Linked DNA regions of Homo sapiens: regions 2, 3 and 4 are each linked to region 1. Evidence: fine-mapped expression QTL. A gene starts in region 1. Each other region holds a variant in brackets. All regions are shown on one strand. Distances are between the middles of the regions. Region 1 holds the start of RIMKLB (ribosomal modification protein rimK like family member B). Region 2 overlaps RIMKLB (ribosomal modification protein rimK like family member B). Region 3 overlaps A2ML1-AS1 (A2ML1 antisense RNA 1). Region 4 overlaps RIMKLB (ribosomal modification protein rimK like family member B).

What was found. PIP is the estimated chance that this variant, and not a neighbour inherited with it, causes the effect. A credible set is the group of variants that fine-mapping cannot tell apart.
Region 2: its variant is the best candidate, but not a certain one, in a credible set for the expression of RIMKLB in whole blood (INTERVAL, PIP 0.90).
Region 3: its variant is the best candidate, but not a certain one, in a credible set for the expression of RIMKLB in lung (TOPMed, PIP 0.67).
Region 4: its variant is the best candidate, but not a certain one, in a credible set for the expression of RIMKLB in whole blood (TOPMed, PIP 0.77).

What each region holds. Positions count from the first base shown.
Region 1 is chr12:8,695,961-8,701,111 of GRCh38, reverse strand. RIMKLB (ribosomal modification protein rimK like family member B) reads right to left here and starts at 3,121. Exons shown (of 6, transcript NM_001297776.2): 1 at 2,815-3,121. RefSeq lists silencers at 2,517-2,686, 3,217-3,316 and an enhancer at 2,326-3,292.
Region 2 is chr12:8,718,701-8,723,851 of GRCh38, reverse strand. All of the region lies in intron 2 of RIMKLB (ribosomal modification protein rimK like family member B), which reads right to left. Among named protein-coding and RNA genes, the nearest start is that of RIMKLB, 23 kb to the right of the region's middle. The variant C/T (reference allele first, on the strand shown) is at 2,500.
Region 3 is chr12:8,805,140-8,810,290 of GRCh38, reverse strand. The region is part of intron 1 of A2ML1-AS1 (A2ML1 antisense RNA 1); the gene reads left to right. Among named protein-coding and RNA genes, the nearest start is that of A2ML1, 15 kb to the left of the region's middle. RefSeq lists enhancers at 1-233, 3,185-3,892, 4,599-5,151. The variant T/G (reference allele first, on the strand shown) is at 2,781.
Region 4 is chr12:8,769,438-8,774,588 of GRCh38, reverse strand. It overlaps RIMKLB (ribosomal modification protein rimK like family member B), which reads right to left. Exons shown (of 6, transcript NM_001297776.2): 6 at 1-1,268. The coding sequence ends at 805. Among named protein-coding and RNA genes, the nearest start is that of LINC02972, 16 kb to the left of the region's middle. RefSeq lists enhancers at 1,481-1,980, 1,981-2,482. The variant G/A (reference allele first, on the strand shown) is at 2,907.

The sequences.
Region 1 (5,151 bases):
TCCCTCAGATTCTAATAACGTATTACAGTTTCTTTTTTCTTTTTTTTTGAGACAGTCTTGCTCTGTTGCCCAAGCTGGAGTGCAGTGATAAAATTTCGGCTCACCGCAACCTCCACCTCCCAGGTTCAAGCGATTCTTGTGCCTCAGCCTCCTGAGTAGCTGTGACTACAGGTGTGCGTCACCATGCCCAGCTACTTTTTATATTTTTCACAGAGACAGGGTTTCGCCATGTTGGCCAGGCTGGTTTCAAACTCCTGACCTCAAGTGATCAGCTTGCCTCATCCTCCCAAAGTGCTGGGATTACAGGTGTGAGCCACTGCGCCAGGCCACATAATTACAATTTCTAGAGGCTCTTTTCTCATTTGCTTGTGACTTAATCCCACTTGCAGAATACTCTTTGTAAACTAATCTGCCATAAAACAAAGTCTTTCTATGAATGTATATCACTGAAGCGCCCCCAAAACAGTTGTCAGCAAGCAACATACAATAAAACTCACCCTCCTTACTTTATGTTTGGTTCTCTCTCTTCACATGTTGTTCGTGGGTATAGAAGTTCTTCCTCCACCCATTTTCACTCAGTTTATGTCTCTATGCCTGCTCCCCAGAGGAAGATGATAAAAGCTACTCCTGCTTCCCAAAGTGTGGAACAACTGGCTCTGCTCTGTCCCCTTTCCCCATCCCCTACTAGTGTTCATGGTTGGTCAGTCTTTCAGCTCATAGAGAGGGGAGCTTTGAGAAATAAATCTAGTGACTTACCCCAGCAGCAAATCCTAGGTGGATACAAATTGTGAAAAGGGTAATTGGGAGATATTTTAAAAGAGATGTTTCTCCATGTGCCACAACAAACCAATGCCTGAAGCTGGGTTCGTGTTCACTGGTCAAATAATGTCCACTTTAGTGTGTTTCTTCACAGTATGACTGAGAAGGGGTGGAAGATTTAGAAGAGTTTACTGGTAATTTCCCTCTGGAGAGGAAAAGGGGCCTGAATGACAAGGGAAAAAAGAAGGGGCTAATTTATTGTCACTCTCCCTGCTACTCCTAGATACTACTACTGACAAAAGTATATTAAACAGGGATTCTAAGAAAACATGGGCAAAATAAGAAAGCTATCCACTAGAAACTAAGATAAGTAGAATTTTAGCTGGTAGCCAACCGGCTAAAGATTAAACGCTCAGTTCCTTACCCCCTGCGGGGGGGCAAGGCAGGAAGAGAAAAGTGGCTCTTGACCGAGTGGAGGATTGTCTGTGACTGAATTTGCTGTTCCCCTTCTTGGCTCTGTTCTCAGAATCACAGACTGCCCCCCTCCCTGACAAGCAGACTCCAGCACCTGGTAGGGGTAAGAGAAGACAAGAGAGAAAAAAGGGAGACAGAGAAAGATAAAAAACATCAACAGCCATGTTGCCAAACTAACAACTAAATCAATGACATGAAAGAAGGAAATTAACAGCACTAACCAAGATAGAAAAGAATAAAATAGGATTACCTCAAGACAAAATAGGCCTCCTCCCCTTTGACACACTAACCAAATAAAACAGTAACCATTGGAAAAGAAATTTAACTATGATTATTTTTAAAATTAGAGGGTTGCATACTAAAATTTAGGAAATAAATGTTAAATCTCTGAGACCGGAATTTCAGAGAGTGTTTTATTCCAAATGAATATCTTAAAAGTATTCTCATAATTGCTTTTAAGAAATCATTTTTTAAAATAGAAGAAATGACCTTTAAGGTACCCAATATTGTGAAAGTAACAAAAATGAGATTTAAAAACATTTCAATTTAAATGGTTATAGTTAATAATTAAGAACACCCATAAATATAATGAACATACCAAGCCCACAAAAAAAAATCTGCATAGTAGGCTGCCCATATACTTTCTATACCTATTTAGAGTTGAACCTAACTCCACAAAGATGTGGTAACAATATATATAACTAATGGGAAAATGACAGCATACTGAAAGAATTTACATAGCAGTTGCATTGAGCATGGTTAGTGCAATAACCCCTCACAGAACAGAATTACCACCCCATCGCTATTCGCCAATACAAATGGGATAAAACAGTGAAATAACAAATGTGTGATCAGAGATAAGGACATATTAATAAGGGGAGATTGAAATTATTACCACTCTGGTTTGGGTTTTTTTTGGGGGGGGGTGAGGGGCAAGTAGTGTAATATTTACATCATGCTCAAATTTTTAAAGAATCAAAACTGGACAAGCAATTATTTGGTCATCCCCTTCTCATTCAGAGACTGTCAAAGGAAAAGATGGAATGACTGTCACACTCTCTAAAATTTACACGTAAGGAGGAAAACGTGGAATCGAATACAGTAGCTGCGGGACCGCACCACGTGATCCTCCTCCCGCGGTCGCTCCATAGAATTTGTGGGAAGGGGGGGGAGGGGGAGTGTCGCCGCAATCCCGAGGACAGGTCAGCAGCCCGCGGGTCCGACTCCAGCCGGCGTTCCCGGGGTTACCACACCCCCTCGCCGGCGGGGAAACCATACTCCTTACACGCCCGAAGTCGCCGCCCCCTCGACACGGCTCGCCCGGTCGCACGCACACGCCACGGGCCGGCGCCTCCCGGCACACGCGCGAAGGCCGGGCCCCGCCTCGCTCCCCACCGACTCCGCGGAGCGGCGACCACCGGCCTCAACTAGCCCCGGACCCCGGGCGCGCTCGGGCCGGTCCCCTCCCCGGCCCAGCCCCCGCTAATCGGGGGATCCATTCCGCTGAACTCGCCCACTCGGGAGGGCGCGCCTTCGCCTCACTGCTCTACACCCGAGGGCAACAGCGGTCGTACCGCTCACCTGGGTCGGGGGGCTCCTCCCTCGCTCTCGGCCGACTGAGCCGGGCTGGGGCCTTCGAGGAAGCGCGGGCCGCCGGGCGGCTGGAAGTGGGGGAAGGAGAGGAGGGGGAGGGGGTCGGGATACCGGGAGCCGCCTCCTTTCTCCTCCGCCGACTGCGGCTCCCGCAGGCTGGCCGGGCGTCCTCGCACACTCGCCCAGTTTCTCACAGCCTCGCGTCCCGTCAGCTTCTCCCTCACCCCACTCCCACACACTCTCACTCCCACACACTCACACCCGGCCGCTCCTCGTTCCCTCACTCGCCTGCCGCGCGCGCGCGCGACCCCGCTCACACACAGCGCGCGCGACGCCGGCGGAGACCGCCCCGCTCCCTCAGACCGAACGCCGCCCGCCCGCTTGCTGAGGAGCGGCGCGCGCCCCGGCCCCGCCCTCCTGGCGCCGCGGCGCGGCGGGCGGGGGGCGGCGGCCGGAGGAGCTGGGGGCCGGGCCAGCGCGCCGAGCACTGCCGAGCGGATCTGACACCTGCGTCGAGAGCCGCCCTCCCAGCTCCTCGCCCGCACCCGAGCCATCGCTGGCCTCGGGGGAAGAGAGGCGATGGATCGCGCGCGGGGAGCGAAAAGGGAGCGCGAGGGCGCTCCGAGGACGCGCCTCCCCACCCGCCCCCAAACCGTCTTCACTGAGAAAGGGAAACGGATGGGGGGGGTGGGGGGCGAGGTTTGCTCCCAACTCGAAACCGCGAGATTAGTCCCTTCCGTTGTACGCCCTCCCCGCCCTCACATTCCCTGCTTAGGCCCCATCAATCTGCGCCTGGAACCCCGACACGAGCCCCCTACCCCCTCGGGCGCAGGGTCCTGCCGGCATCCCGACGCCTCCCGCCCAGCCCTTCCGCCGGCCGCCGCCCGGAGTCTCCGCTTACGGTGGTTCCTCCCTCCGGTAGGCAAAGATATGGAGACAAAGATCATTCATACCTAGAAGGTCTTTATCCGGGACTGGAGTAAAGACAGTACCTCTGTATATTGAGAGGCAAATTTAAAACCACATGATAAATTTCCTGGCTGAAGCGGGTTTGGAGATACAGGCGGGGTGGATAGCGCCAGCTCTGCCCCCTAGAAACCGGCGTAAACCTTGGACAAGTTAGTTGCTACGCTTCCTCTGAGCCTTTGTTGTGAAAAGATAAAAGAGTACAGTCCGGAGTCGTTGTGAGAATGAAATGAGATATTTTAAGAGCATTTTGTAAATTCTAAAACTATGTATAAAAAATAAAAGTATAGCCCAAAGGAGGCTAAGAATATGAATGTTCAACTACGCTATTACATTTTCTTAAGGAGAAAAAAAAAGGGCTACAGACGACCTCCCAGGTTTACATGGAAGATTCACTTCCAAATAACTTCAGTCACCAGAGACACCAGGTGTGAGGTACGGTAATGTGCTCACCAGTTTGCCTTCTTGCTGGTCTCAGCCCTGTCTCAGTGACCTCAGCCAACAACTTTTCACTGCTCCTCTCCCAGTCAATTGACAATATAATTTCATTTTCTGCTTTTAAAAAATTTTTTGACTAATTTCCTTCAGCGTCTCGAGAGTCCTTTAAAAGATGTAGCATAACCCAGGGTGGTAACTTCTGGATCCAGACTGCCCGGATTGGATTTATGGTTCCACTCCCTATGTGAACCTCTGCAGTAACTTAACCTCTCTGTATCTTTATCTGCTGAGCTGTAAAAGTGAGGATAAAAATAGTCACCTACTTCATGGAGTTGTCATAAGGAGTAAATGAGTTAATAAGTATATAATATTTAACAGCTGACACAGATCAAGTGCTGTTCAAAGTGTTTAGTGCTATTATAATGTTAGGTCAGTGAGAGTAACCTAGGATAGGCGTCTAGTTGGTTTACAAAATTTAGAGGAACAAACGCCCTATAAGATAGATACACTATCTTGAGAACAAAGGGGATAAGGTCTACAGAACTAAATTGTTGCTATTTACTTCCACTCTGATATTCAGCCCCCTGGGACATAAAGTATATTCAACTCCAAGACCAAGAGAAGCATTTTGTGATCAAGGGAAGCTTGAGCACAGAGATACTAACACTGAAAATCTGACAAAATAAACACAGTGAAATTGACACAGGGAAAAAAATGTACAGAGGATCAATAATAATATTTAATTAACCTATTCCTTCAGTCCCACTCTTAAGGAATCCAATTCGTGGTAACTGCATCCCCAGAAAAAGTGGGTTGTACTGGTGAAACTGAGGATAGGAAGTATGACTATTAACTCACTTGCCACTTGCCCTTAAAAGTTGTTATTCAGGGCAGGGCGCGGTGGCTCACGCCTGTAATCCC
Region 2 (5,151 bases), 23 kb before region 1:
CGACAGAGAAAGACTCTGTCTCCAAAAAAAAAAAAAAAAAAAAAAAAGGGAACTGAAGAAAGCCTATGAGAATTACAGGCCAGTGTCAAGTGAACCATAATATGCATTATGGATATTCCGGAAGGAGTAGAGAAAGACAAAAGGACAACAGTTTATTTTTTTTTAAGTTCCCTAATCTAGAGAGAAATAAACATCTAGATTCATGAAGCCCAGCAAACTCCAAATAGATTAAATATACAAGCATGCCTCATTTTATTGTGCTTTAACTTATTGCCTTTTGCAGTTATTGTGTTTTTTACAAATGAAGATTTGTGGCGACCCTGTGTCAAGCAAGTCAATCAGTGTCATTTTTGCAACAGCAAGTGCTCACTTTGTGTCTTTGTGTCACATTTTGATAATTTTCACAGTATTTCAAACTTCCATTTTGATCATATCTGTTATAGTGATCTTTGATGTTACTATTATAAATGGGCGACACTAACTGCAACCACATAGAGGGCAAACTGAATAAATGTGTACATTCTCACTGCTCCACCAACTGGCTTCCCCATCTCTCTCCCTCTCCTTGGGCCTCCTTATTCCCTGTGACAACAATATTGAAATTAGGCCAGTTAATAACCCTACAGTGGCTCTAAGTGTTCAAGGGCAAAAAAGAGTCACACAATCTCTTACTTTAAATTGAAAGATTAAGCTTAGTGAAGAAGGTATTTTAAAAGGTGAGACAGGCCAGAAACTAGACCTCTTGTGCCAAAGTTAGACAAGTTGTATATGCAAAGGAAAAGTGCTTGAAGGAAATTAAAAGTGCTACTCCAGTGAACACATGAATGATAAGAAAGCAAAGCAGCCTTATTGGTGATATGGAGAAAGTTTTAGTGGTCTGGATAAAACATCCAACCAGCCACAACATTCCCTTAAGGCAAAGCCTTATCTAGAGTAAGACCCTAACTCTCCAATTCTTTGAAGGCTGACGGAGGTGAAGGAAAGTTTGAATCTAACAGAGTTTGGTTCATGGGATTTAGGAACAGAAGCCATCTGTATAGCACAGTGCAAAGTGCAAGGTAAAGCGGCAGCTGCTTATGTGAAAGCTTCAGCAAGTTATCCAGAAGATCTAGCTAAGATAATTGATGAAGGTGGCCGCACTATACAATGGATTTTCAATGTAGACAAAACAGCCTTTTGCTGGAAGAAGATGCCCTCTAGGACTTTGATAGCAGCTAAAGAGAAGTCCATAACTGGCTTTAAAGTTTCAAGGGAGAGGCTAATTCTTTTGTTAGGAGCGAAGGCAGCTGGTGACTGTAAGTTGAAACCAATGCTCATTTAGCATTCCAAAAATCCTAGGGTTCTTAAAAGTTATGCTAAATGGACTCTGCCTGTGCTAAGTGGAACAGCAAAACCTGAATGACAGCACATCTGCTTGCAGTATGGTTTACTAAATATCTTTAGCCCACTGTTGAGACCTACTACTCAGAAAAAAAATATTCCTTTCAAAATATTACTACTCACTGATGATGCACCTGGTCACCCAAGAGCTCTGATGAAGATGTATAAAAAGATTAACATTATTTTCATAGCTGCTAACACAACATGGACTCTGCAAGCCCATGGATCAAGAAGTAATTTTTTTTTTTTTTAGCTCTGTGAGACAGCTGACAAACAGGAGTAATTTCTACTTTCAAATCTTATAATTTAAGACATACATTTCATAAGGCTATAGCTGCCACAGTGATTCCTCTAAAAGATCTCGGCAAGTAAACTGAAAAAGTTCTGAAAGGCATTCATCATTCTAGATGCCATTAAGAACACTCATAGGCCAGGCGCGGTGGCTCACACCTGTAATCCCAGCACTTTGGGAGGCCGAGGTGGGTGGATCACCTGAGGTCAGGAGTTTGAGACCAACCTGGCCAACATGGCAAAACCCCATCTCTACTAAAAATACAAAAATTAGCCAGGCATAGTGGCACACACCTGTAGTCCCAGCTACTTGGGAGAGTGAGGCAGGAGAATCGCTTGAACCCAGGAGGCTGAGGTTGCAGTGAGCCAAGATCGTGCCACTGCACTCCAGCCTGGGTGCCAGAGTCAGACTCCATCTCAAAAAAAAACAAAAAACAAAAAACACTCATAATTCATGAGAGAAGGTCAAGATATCACCATTGATAGGAATGTGGAAGAAACTGATTCTCACCCTCATGGATGACTATGAGGGCTTCAAGACTTCAGTGAAGGAAATAACAGCAAATGTGGTGGAGATGGCAAGAGAGCTATAATTGAGAGTGTAGCCTGAGACGGGATTAAACTGCTGCAGTCTCATGAAGATTGCTGAACAGATGAGTTGCTTCTTACAGATGACCAAATGGTCATTCCAATGGAGATGGAATCTATTCCTGTGAAGAGGCTATGAACATTGTTGAAATGACGACAAAGATTTAGAATATTACATAAATTGAGTTGACAAAGCAGCAGCAGGGTTTAAGAGGACTGACTCCAATTTTGAAAGAAATT[C/T]GGTGGGTAAAATGTTGGAAAATAGCATCACATGCTACAGAGAAATCTTTAATGTCAATGGGGCAAATTTCATTGTTTTCGTATTTCAAGAAAATGCCACAGCCACCTTCAGCAACCACCACCCTGACTAGTCAGTAGCCATCAACCAAAAGTTTGTGTTACTCGCTTTATTGTGATATTTGCTTGACTGTGGTGGTCTGAAACCAAATCTGCAGTATCTCCAAGGTGTGCCTATAAAGAGATCTTCATCAAAACACATTACAATTAAACTCTCAAAAGGCAGACATTACCTATTAACAGTCTCCTTTTTAAACCATATCCTAGCACTTCTGGAAGAGTCACTGGTTAACATTTTTGTTTTTAAATAGTCTTTTAAAAATTACCTGGTTCCAGGGTATTAAATCTGTCCCAGTAGACTCTGAGGCAGCATAACATAATATTCAAAGGGGTCTCACTTTGTGTCTAGCTACAAGGCCATAGGCAAGCTTCTTAATCTCTTATTTAAAACGGGTAGGCCAGGCGCGGTGGCTCATGCCTGTAATCCCAGCACTTTGGGAAGCCGAGGGGGGCGGATCATTCAAGGTCAGGAGTTCCAGACCAGCCTGGCCAACAAGGTGAAACCCCATCTCTACCAAAAATGCAAAAATTAGCTGAGCGTGGTGGCAGGCACCTATAATCCCAGCTACTCGGGAGGCTGAGGCAGGAGAATCGCTTGAACCCGAGACAGAGGTTGCAGTGAGCGAGATCGCGCCACTGCACTCCGGCCTGGGCGACAAGAGCCAAACTCCGTGTCGCACACACACACACGAGGGATAATGATACTTTACCCTCAAAGGGAATTAAAATGCATCCTCAGCTGCTTAGTATAGTTTATAGTCTTTAATTCTACTAGACTCCTGAGCTCCATGTGAACAGAGACCCTTTATTTACTATTATACACTGGAAAGTATCTGGCACATAAAAGTTTCTCAAATATTAGTTGACCACTAAGCGTCAAAAGATTGAACTCAAAAGTATGAATCCAACTTTGTACCTTTTAATTAGGTCTTTTACCCATCAAAAGAAACTAAGAAAAAGAATGTTACTGATGATATGACTTCTCATATTCTCCTAATGAATGTGTTTTAATATGGATTTTGTGGTGTCAAAATATATGTCCTCAATGTCTTAATGTTCTATATTCTACTCACAACTGAAAAATGTCTTCATTACTGGCTCAAATCCGGACTCTATCCTGGCACTGAAAGTTCCATCATCTAGCTATACCAAACTTATCACCAAGTCTCAGTACCAATCTTGCTTTGAATGAAGGCTTCATTCTTTACCATCCTTGGTGCACACCTACACTCACTCCCAAGTAACCCAAATATGAAAACAGCTCATGATCTATCTCTACTCACAACCAGGCCCTACCTTGAGGCCAGACTCCTTGTCAGTCTCCTTTATCAGAACAAGAACCTCAGGAGTTGACAATTTTGTCTTTTCCATCCTTGTATCCACAACCTTGTACATTGTCCTTTATGAAACAGGCATTTCATGAATGCAATTTTGTATTTTTACTTGGTTTTCTATATATCTTTTTGCTGTTAAGCATCTAAGCACTTGTAATAGTTATTTTGAATCTCCCACATTACTAAGTAGATCCTCAATAATTATTAAATTGGAAGACAAAAAACCCAGCTTAGGCTGGGCACTGTGACTCATGCCTGTAATCCTAGCACCTTGGTAGGCCGAGGCGGGCGGATCACCGGAGGTCAGGAGTTCGAGTCCAGCCTGGCCAACATGGTGAAACCCCGTCTCTACTAAAAATACAAAAATCAGCTGGGCGTAATGGTGGGCGCCTGTAATCTCAGCTACTTGGGAGGCTGAGGCAGGAGAATCGCTTGAATCTGGGAGGTGGAGGTTGCAGTGAGCCGAGATCGCACCATTGCAGTCTAGCCTGGGCGACAAGAGCGAAACTCCATCTCAAAAACAAAACAAAACAAAACAAAAAAACCCAGCTTAATTTATAATCCCAGGGCTTAGAATTAGAAGCAAGGTGTCTTTTAGCAGTTGAATAAATAAACTACAGTATATGAAGGCAATGAAATATAATTATACAATAGAAGAAATGAGCTCTCAAGCCAGGAAAAGACGTGGAAAAACCTTAAATTCATATTACTATGTGAAAGATCCTAATACGAAAACACTACATACTGCACAGTGCCAACTATAACATTCTAGAAAAGGCAAAACTGTGGAGACAGTCAGAGGGTCAGTGGTTGTCAAGAGATGGGTGAGAGGGAGGGAAGGAGGAGGATGAACAGGAGGGAGAAAGAGAAAGGAATGAACAGCCAGAGCACAGGATTTTTAGTGCAGGGAAACTATTCTGTATGATACCACAGTGGTGGATACATGTAATTATGCATTTGCCCAAAGCCACAGACTATAGAACACCCAAGAGTAAGCAGTAATGTAAACTATGGACTTTGCATGATGATGTGTCATGTCAGTTCATCAAGTTCAACAAACATGTCCTTCTGGTAAGGGATGTTCAAAATGGGGCAAAGATATCCATGTATGTGGGCAGAGGATACATAGGAGATCCCTGTACTTTCTGCCTAATTTTGCTGTAAACCTAAAATTACTCTAAAAATGATTATACACACACAC
Region 3 (5,151 bases), 110 kb before region 1:
AGGCCATTTTCATTTCTTTTGTGGTGGAATGTCATCAGTTAAAGCAGGAACCCGTCATCTGGATGTGTACGTGCAGGCCACAGGGGATACGGTGGCTTAGCTTGGGCTCAGAGGCCTGACATTCCTGTCTTATATTAATAAGAAAAATAAAACGAAATAGTGGTAAAGTGTTGGGATGATGAAAATTTTGGATGAGGGTATGGAGAGATAATGGGCGATGTTTCTCAGGGCTGCTTCGTGCGGGATTGGGGCGGCGTGGGAACCTAAAGTGGGAGCGATTAAGCTGAAGGGAGATTTTGTGGTAAGGGGTGATATTGTGGGATTGTTAGAAGAAACATTTGTCATTTAGAATTATTGGTGATGGCCTGGATACAGTTTTGTATGAATTGAAAAACTAAATGGAATAAAAGAAGGAGAAAAACAGGTATTAAAGGACTAAGAATTGGGAGGACCTAGGACATCTCATTAGAGAGTGCCTAAGAAGGTTCAGCATAGCCTTGCCAGCAAAGATTATTTATTTACTTTAAGAGTTAAGAGTGGCGGTTTGGGGATAGCACCAGGAGATATCAGCTGTGATGGCTTGGAGAAACAGTGTAAACTGGCAGTGTAAACAAGAGCAGGGCATGTATGAGTAGTTGAGAACGCTGAATAAGAGTATGACTAGACAGAAGATAGTAGGGATGACAGGTTTTTGGGGGCACAGTCTAAGTTGGTCTGGTGTCTGGAAGGAGACTGGGGCCTAATAAAAAGGAGCGTCTATACAGGAGCTTAAATGGGCTGTACCTTGTAGCATTCTGAGGACAGGCCTGAATTCTGAGAAGCGAAAGTGGTAAAAGTATTGTCCAGTCCTTTTTGAGTTGGTGGCTGAGCTTCGTGAGGTGTGTTTTTAATAGACCATTAGTCTGTCACTGGATACTAAGAGCCTGAAAAAAGGCTTGGCTGATTTGACTAATAAAGGCTCGTCTGTTATCAGACTGTATTGAGGTGGGAAGGCTAAACTGAAGAATTATGTCTGACAGAAGGGAAGAAATGACTGTGGTGGCCTTCTCAGACCCTGTAGGAAAGGACTCTGCTTATCCAGTGAAAGTGTCTACCTAGACTAAGAGGCATTTTAGTTATCTTACTCGGGGCATGTTGAGTAAAGCTAATTTGCCAGTCCTGGGTGGGGGCAAATCCTTGAGCTTGATGTGTAGGGAAGGGAGGGGGCCTGAATAATCCCTGAGGAGTAGTAGAATAGCAGATGGAACACTGAGAAGTTATTTCTTTGAGGATAGATTTCCACAATGGAAAGGAAATGAGAGGTTCTAAGAGGCGGGCTAGTGGCTTGTACTATAGCATAGCCTGCCTTTGCTGGTGTGTGGCGATTAGGCCTGGTGGAACCGCCATCAATAAACTAAGTGTGATCAGGGTGAGAAACAGGGAAGAAGGAAATGTGGGGAAATGGGGTGAACGTCAGGTGGATCAGAGAGATGCAGTCATGGGGGTCAGGTGTGGTATCAGGAATAATGTGGGAGGCCGGACTGAAGTCCGGGCCAGGAACAATGGTAATTGTGGGACTTAACAAAGAGTAAGCACAGCTGAAGGAGCCCGGGAGCAGAAAGTATATGCGTCAGGTGTGGGTCAGAAAATAGATTTTGGAAATTATGAGAGCTGTAGAGAGTGAGTTGAGCATAGTTTGTGATTTTGAGGGCCTCTAAAAGTATTAAAGCAGCAGCAGCCGCTGCATGCAGACATGAGGGCTAGGCTAAAACAGTAAGGTCAAGTTGTTTGGACAGAAAGGCTACAGGGTGTGGTCCTGTCTCTTGTGTAAGAATTCTGACTGCGCTAACCATGCCTAGGAAGGAAAGGAGTTGTTGTTTTGTAAGGGATTGAAGTTTGGGAGATTAATCGGACATGATCAGCAGGGAGAGCACGTGTGTTTTTATGAGAATTATGCCGAGATAGGTAACAGATGAGGATGAAATTTGGGCTTGACTGAAGTAATGGGGGCTGTCTACTAAGCCTTGCAGCAGTACAGCCTAGGTAATTTGCTGAGCCTAATGGGTGTCAGGGTCAGTCTAAGTGAAAGCGAAGAGAGGCTGGGACGAGAGGTGCAGGGGAATAGTGAAAAAAGCATCTTTAAGATCAAGCACGGAACAGTGAGTTGTGGAGGAAGGTATTGAGGACAAAAGAGTGTACGGGTTGGGCAGCACAGGGTGGATAGGCAAAACAATTTGGCTGATAAGGCGCAGATCCTGAACTAATCTGTAAGACTTGTCCAGTTTTCGGACAGGTAAAATGGGGGAATTGTAAGGAGAGTTTATAGGTTTTAGAAGCCCATGCTGTAGCAGGCGAGTGATAACAGGCTTTAATCCTTTTAAAGCGTGCTGTGGGATGGGATATTGGCGTTGAGCGGGGTAAGGGTGATTAGGTTTTAATGAGATGGTAACGGCCATGTGATCGGTTGCCAGGGAAGTAGAGATGTCCCATACTTGTGGGTTAAGGTGGGGGGATATGAGAGGAAGACGCGAAGGAGGCTTTGGGTTGGGGAGAGGGGCAGCAATGAGATGTGGCTGTAGCCCAGGAATAGTCAGGGAAGCAGATAATTTGGTTAAAATATCTTGGCCTAATAAGGGAACTGGGCAGGTGGGGATAACTAAAAAAGAGTGCATAAGAGTGTTGTCCTAGTTGGCACCAGAGTGGGGGAGTTTTCAGGGGTTTAGAAGCCTGGCCGTCAATACCCACAACAGTTATGGAGGCAAGGGAAACAGGCCCTTGAAAAGAAGGTAATGTGGAGTGGG[T/G]AGCCTCCGTATTGACTAAGGGGACAGACTTAACTTCCACTGTGAGAGTTACCCGAAGCTCGGCATCCGTGATGGTCTACGGAGCTTCCGAGGCAATCGGGCAGCGTCAGTCTTCAGCTGCTAAGCCGAGAAGGAGTCAGTCAGACAGCCTTGGGCCAGAGTTCCAGGGGCTCTGGGAGCGGCTGCCAGGTGAGTTGAACAGTCTGATTTCCAATGGGGTCCTGCACAGATGGGACACGGCTTAGGAGGAATCCTGGGCTGCAGGCATTCCTTGGCCTGGTGGTCAGATTTCTGGCACTTGTACAAGCTCCTGCCGGAGGAGGTTCTGGAGGAATGCCTGGACACTGTGGTTCAGGCATTTGGAAGTTCTTGTGTGCTGGAGATGTGGCTGGGGTTTGTCTCACAGTGGAGGCAAAGAATTGCAACTTTTTTCTATTATTGTACACCTTGAAGGCAAGGTTAATTAAATCCTGTTGTGGGGTTTGAGGGCTGGAATTTAATTTTTGGAGTTTTATTTAATGTCGGGAGCAGATTGGGTAATAAAATGTATATTGAGAATAAGACGGCCTTTTGACCTTTTAGGGTCTAGGGCTGTAAAGCGTCTCAGGGTTGCTGCTGAACGAGCCATGAACTGGGCTGAGTTTTTATATTTGATGAAAAAGAGCCTAAACACTATCTGATTTGGGATAAAGAAAATGGCGCATTAACCTTGACTATATGCCTTTAGCTCCAGCCACCTTTTTAAGAGTAAATTTCTGGGCAGGTGGGGGAGGGCTAGTCATGGAACGAAACTGTAAGCCGGACCAGGTGTGAGGAGGGGAGGTGATAAAAGGATTATAGGGTGGAGGAGCAGAGGCTGAGCAAGAATTGGGACCTAGCTCGGCCTGGCGAGGAGCAGCCTGGGGAGGAAGGGAGAGGTCAGATGGGTCTGTAGAAAAGGAAGATTAGAAAGACTCAGCGACACTTGGGATTGGTACTGAGGGGACAGGCAGGAGGGAAAGAAGGAAGATTTGGGACAAGTTGCACTGGGCACAGAGACTAGGGAGGGACTGATGTGTAAAACAATGCCTGGTTGTCAGGCACCTCAGACCGTTTGCCCATTTTATGACAAGAATTATTTAGATCTTGCAGGATGGAAAAATTGAAAGTGCCGTTTTCCGGCTGTTTGGAACTACTATTGAGTTTGTATTGGGGTCAAGCAGCATTGCAGAAGAAAATAAGGCATTTAGGTTTTAGGTCAGGTGTGAGTTGAAGAGGTTTTAAGTCTTTGAGAACACAGGCCAAGGCAGAAGAAGGAGGAAAGGAGGGTGGAAGGTTGCCCATAGTGAAGGAAGCAAGCCTAGAGAAAAGGGAGAGTAGAGACATGGAGGGAAGGGGTTCGGGGGTTCTTACCTTCCAGAAAAGTGGGAAAGGGGTTGGGGCACAGATATAAGGGGTTGGGGCACAGAGATAAGAGGTTGGGGCATGGAAATAAGGGGTGGGGCACAGAGATAAGAGGTCGGGGCATGGAAATAAGGGGTTGGGGCACAGAGATAAGAGGTCGGGGCACGGAAATAAGGGATTGGGGCGCAGAGATATAAGAGGTTGGGCCACGGAAATAAGGGATTGGGGCGCAGAGATACAAGGTTGGGGTACTTGCCCCTCCTCTACAAAAGCGGGACTTGCCACTAAGAGTGAAGGAGAAGGGGTTGGGGGTTTCTTGCCCCCCAGAAAGGTGGAGAAGGGGTAGAGACACGGAGAGAAATGGTTGGGGTACTTGCCCCTTCCCCAGAAAAGCGGGACTTGCCGCTAAGGGTGAAGGACCAATGCAGGCGTCCCTCCTGCATTGACACCTCTGAAACGTGTGTAAATAATCAGAGAGGTGTCCCTGCAATGACTAAACACCAAGGGAAGGCTGCCTTCCCTAGTCCGTGACCGGCGCCGGAGTTTTGTGTCCATGGATAAAACGTGTCTCCTTTGTCTTTACCAGAAAATGAAAGGAATTGAAATTAAGAGAAGGGAGAGATTGAAGAGTGGAAAGGAGAAAGTGGTTGAGGGACAGTGAGAGAGGTTGGAGAAGAGAGTAAGAAGAGGCCGCTTACCCGATTTAAAATTGGTGAGATGTTCCTTGGGCTGCTTGGTCTGAGGACCTGAGGTCGTAGGTGGATCTTTTTCACAGAGCAAAGAGCAGGAGGACAGGGGATTGATCTCCCAAGGGAAGTCCCCGGATCTGAGTCACGGCACCAAATTTCATGCACGTCCATGTGAAGAGACCACCAAACAGGCTTTGTGTGAGCAATAAAGCTTTTAATCACCTGGGTGCAGGTGGGCTGAGTCCGAAAAGAGAGTCAGTGAAGGGAGATAGGGGTGGGGCCGTTTTATAGGATTTGGG
Region 4 (5,151 bases), 73 kb before region 1:
AAAAAAAAAAAAAAAAGCAACATTAACAGAGCACATCTTTCAAAAAAGACTAAAACACTAACAAATACAAGTGAATGCACATATTTTAAACTAGTGTAATTTTATCTACATTGAATTAATGTTATTTTGTATACCGGACATTGCAATACTGTTCATTTCCATTTCATCATGCAAACATGCCAATTTTGTCATTAAGAAGCCTTTATTGGGTTATATTCAATTTGACCTCCCACCAAATTAAGCGGGAAAAAACAAAAAAATAAGAAATCCCAGTAAAAGAGCCCCTCAAGATTTCATAAACTACAAACTAAAGCTGCTAGTTAATAAGGAAATGGCAGAATTTTCAGAGCTGTATAATACAAAAATTCCTGTAATTTATGCAGATGTTTTCCTCACTGATGACAAATCTTCCAACACAATGTGAAGTTATGCTACTTGGATATTTGTAGCAAAACCATTTTTTTTTGTACAAAAACAAAAGCAAGGGACCATGAAAAAAAAAAAGTATTTGTTCCTCATGGCCTATGAGCATACACATTTTTTAGCAATTTAAAAGGGTAACTATGAGAGCCTGACATTTTTCTATACCCCACCTATTCTGCCTCTCTATTTGTAGGATTTGTAAATGAAAGTAACATCTTACTAGCAGAGGTCTCATCTATCTCCCACTCTCTCCAACTAATCCTACTAATTTTCTCTCATCTTCCTGAGCATCCTCCATGAACAGCATTGCAAGTTGGTTTTAAAAATAGAAAAGAAGAAAGAAAGTTTTACAAGGGTTTTGTTGGTTAATTACCAGTGGAGTCAGTCCACCAGTAGTTTGATTTCATTGGCTAGCAGCTGGTTCATGTTGAACAGGCCCCCTGGGAGCTTGGTGAGCAGCTCTCGCTCCGTGCTTTCAGGGTCGCTGTCAACAGAGCTGGAACTTGCACTCATGTTGTCAACAGCAGTGCTGGCTGGGGGACCCAGCTCCGGCTCACTAGTCTCACTGGCAGTGGACACCACGGAGAGCAGGGACATACGCCGGGTGAGCCGGCCAGAGGGTAGAAGGGAGGCGGCATAGTCTGCTATGATACCAGCTACATCTAGATTACAAGCCTTATCAAAGGCGATGAAACCTACATTTGCATTGGCCTCACAGACGCAGAAGGAGCCGTCATCTTTCATCAGCAGATCAATGCCACACACATCCATCCCCAGGATATTAGACACCTGGATAGCTAGCTGCTTCCCTTGTTCACTCAATGAGCACATCATCCCCACACCACCTGGCAAAAGAAACAAGACAGGAAATTAACAAAATCATAAACTTTTGAAATAAAATTAAAGTTGGCCTCCAAGGCTAAGCCTTTCTTCTAAATTAATAGTGAAAACAAAGGCGTTATTCTAGTGTAAAATTAGGACTTCTAAGTCTAGATTTCCTTAATCAGGAATCCTCTCCCTATCCAGTCTCCCAGGAATTGATGATTTCGTAAGTTGTCAATATTTTTTCCAAGTCTATCTTACTTGCAATAATATAAACCAAGTATAAGGAAGTTCAGCATAAATACAATTAGACCACTTGATAGATGGCAAAAGTATTATTGGTTTTTGATTTATAAAAATAATAAAAATGCATAACAGAACGGAGGATGGGGTGAAATCTGGGAAGGTGGTGACGTGAACACAGTTTTCTTCCTCTATAGCCCCCACTTCAATCTAGCTGTCATTCCTAAACCAAAAGGCTTCTGGGTTATAAGGTAGCTGGCTGGATATAAGTGAAGTCTTTGGCCTTGCCAAAAGGAAGGAAGAGAAAGGAAGTAGAACTTGATTTTCTCACTTGGAGATCAGCTTCACGAAGCTCTGAACTAAGGACAGGAAAGTAAAGAACTTTAAGAAGAGCTTGGTTCCAAGAGCTCTGTGTATCCATAGGAGTGAGGATGACATGTGAGTTTACCCGTAGTGTTTGACCCCAAAAAGGCCAGAAGTAGCTGGACAGGTGAGGTGGATCCTCCCTACCACTGAGGCTGTAGGAATAAAGAAGTCAAGGAAACAAAAGGCTTCTTTTAGGTACCTCCGTAGAAGACTGGCCCGTGAATTAAATGATTCTGCTTCACAGCACTTCTAAGACTGAGGCCATGTAGAATACTACAAATAACCCAAGCTGAGTGAGCCCTGATGTAAAAACAAAACAATAATAATCCATCTATGACTTTGATGAAAGAAATAAGAGCTCTTTAAGGAGATTCAAGTTCAGCACAAAAAGATTTTCTGAAGTTAAAACAAAAACATGATTACTCAACTAAAAAATCCAATAGAGAAACTCAAAGAGAGTACAGTCGCTTTGAGAGTTGACTTAGAAAATCAAGTAATATGCAAAGCATAGCTAAAAATGTGAGGTGAAATCATAAAGATAAAAAATTTGGGCCAGCTGTGATGGCTCATGCCTGTAATCCCAACACTTTGGGAGGCTGAGGTGGATCACTTGAGGTCAGGAGTTCAAGACCAGCCTGGCCAACATGGTGAAACCTCGTTTCTACTAAAAATACAAAAATTAGCCCGGTGTGGTGGCAGGCGCCTATAGTTCCGGCTACTCAGGAAGCTGAGGCACAAGAATCGCTTGAACCCAGGAGGTGGAAGTTGCTGTGAGCCAAGATTGTGCCACTGCACTCCAGCCTGGGCGACAGAACGAGACTCCATCTCAAAAACAAAAACAAAAACAAAACAAAACAAAAACAAAACTGGAGAACTGAATCAGAAAAATATTCCTCAGAAGGACAGAAACAGATGGAGAGGCAATAATTAATGAAGACATTTTCCAGAAAACTGTATAAGGAAGAAATTTAGTCTGCTGACTAAAACAGCTAAAATCCAGGTTGAACTGATAAGACACAAATATATCTACAAAATCCCAATAAAATGTGAGC[G/A]CCACTAAAAAAATTTACAAAGAATAAATTACCCACAAAGGAAAAAAATGAGAGTAGATTTGGACATTAAACTGCAACAATAAAATCTTCAAGGCAGTAGAATTGAAGCTAGACTCTTACAATATAAGAATTATATCTCAGACAAAGTATTATTCTTCTTCCAAGGAGAAAGATGTGTGATATTCTGATCTAAATTATATATTGGTTTTTGTCCACAGTTCCTGGCATATCACTCCAACAGCCCTTGTTATAGTCTTTTGTTATAATGTTGGGGCACTTTCCTTAGAAAATAGAATCTAACCTTCCCCTGTCCTCCTTTCACCTACCCCACAGCAGGACTCTAATCTTTCACAGCCTTTCTGATTGTGGGTCATAAGACCTCATTCCAGATGAGGTCCTGCCCCATACCCTGGAGGAAGGAATGTGGCACAGAGAGGCCAAGAAGAATCTGAACATACAGGCCTTGCTGGGTTTCCCTACTCAGTCTACTAGTGTTAGATCATACCCTTTTGGTCCAATTACATTTTTACATGGTTATCAATTATGTCTATCCAATTGGATATCAAAAAGGGCAAGGTTCAGAAAACTTCTGGATAGCTGGACACGTAGAGGCTCCTGAAGGGTGGCAAGCCGTGGGAGGGCATGGAAGCTCCATATCCTTTCTCCCATACCTTGCCCTATGCATCTCTTCACCTGTATCCTTTGAAATATCCTTTATAATATACAGATAACACAATGTAAGTGTTCTTTGAGTTCTGTGAGTTGCTGTAGCAAATTAATCAAACCTAAGCAGAAAGTCACGGGAACCCCAACTTGAAGCCAGTTGGTCAGAAGTTCTGTAGGCCTGGACTTGCAACTGGTGTCTGAAGGGGGTGAGGTGGGAAGTTGGGGATATTCTTGGTGACTCCTGGTGACTGAGCCCTCAACCTGTCAGATCTGATGGTATCTCCAAATAGAGAAATCCCCCACACGTGGTCAAATAAGTGTTCCATGTGAATTGTTGTTGAATGAGAGAATAGAAAAAGCACTTTGAGTGTATTTTTTGTATTAACAGAATATGTGAGGGTATCTATGACTCTGATAGCCCACCAGGAAAAATAATCAAGAAATGATACTAACATACTAGTAAATGGCTAACAGAGATCTCAAGATATGGGAAGATGAATATGAGGAGTAAACCATGGTGAGTACTTTGCAATATAGGTATAATTCATTTTAAGTGGATAAAGACAGACTGCCTGGGAATGGATAAAGTGCTATATAAGGGTTCATGAAACAGAAGAGACATACAGTAAAACAAATTCCAAACAGATGAACTAAAACTATTAGATGATTTCAGCAAAACTGGAATATAAGGTCAATGAGACTAGGGATTTCTGTCTGTTTTGTTCACTAGTATATACAAAATACTGCTACAATAGGCCAGGCGCGGTGGCTCATGCCTGTAATCCCAGCACTATGGGAGGTCGAGGCGAACAGATCACCTGAGGTCAGGAGTTAGAGACCAGGCTGGCAAACATGGTGAAACCCCGTCTCTACTAAAAATACAAAAATTAGCTGGGTGTGGTGGCAGGTGCCTGCATGTGGGAGGCCAAGATAGGAGAATCACTTTAACCCGGGAAGCGGGGGTTGCAGTGAGCTGAGATCATGCCATTGCACTCCAAGCCTGGGCAACAAGAGCAAAATTCCATCTCCCAAAAAAAAAAAAAAAATTATTGCTACAACAGTACTTGACGCTTTGGAGGTACTTGAAACTATTTACTCAATAAATGAGTCAATCAAGTGGAAAGAGTAGGAAGGAAATAAAATTGTTCTAATATTCCCATTGGAGGGGAGAGGGAACAAGGAACACCAGGGGAAAGTAAAGGTATTCCAAAGACTTCATTATTATTATGATGATACAGTGAAGTAGTAAATAAAGTATCAAGGAAAATTATCTTCTCAAGTAACTGTAGAGAATCTGTCTGATTATGAGCATAAGAAAATAGAAGGTAACCATTAATGGAATGCAAAACCCTGGTTGATCTCCCAAATTAACTGGGTTTGGTGGCAGGAGTGAAAATAAAATGGTACCTTACTAACCAGCAAAAATTAGAAAAGAAAAAGAAAAAGGAACAATTTGAGTTAAATAATAAACACAAAATAAGATGGAAGAAATTTTAAGTATATTAGTAATTACACAAAAAATGGACCAAATCTTCCATTAAAAGATGGAAACTAGTCCGATTTGAATAAAAAACAAAAC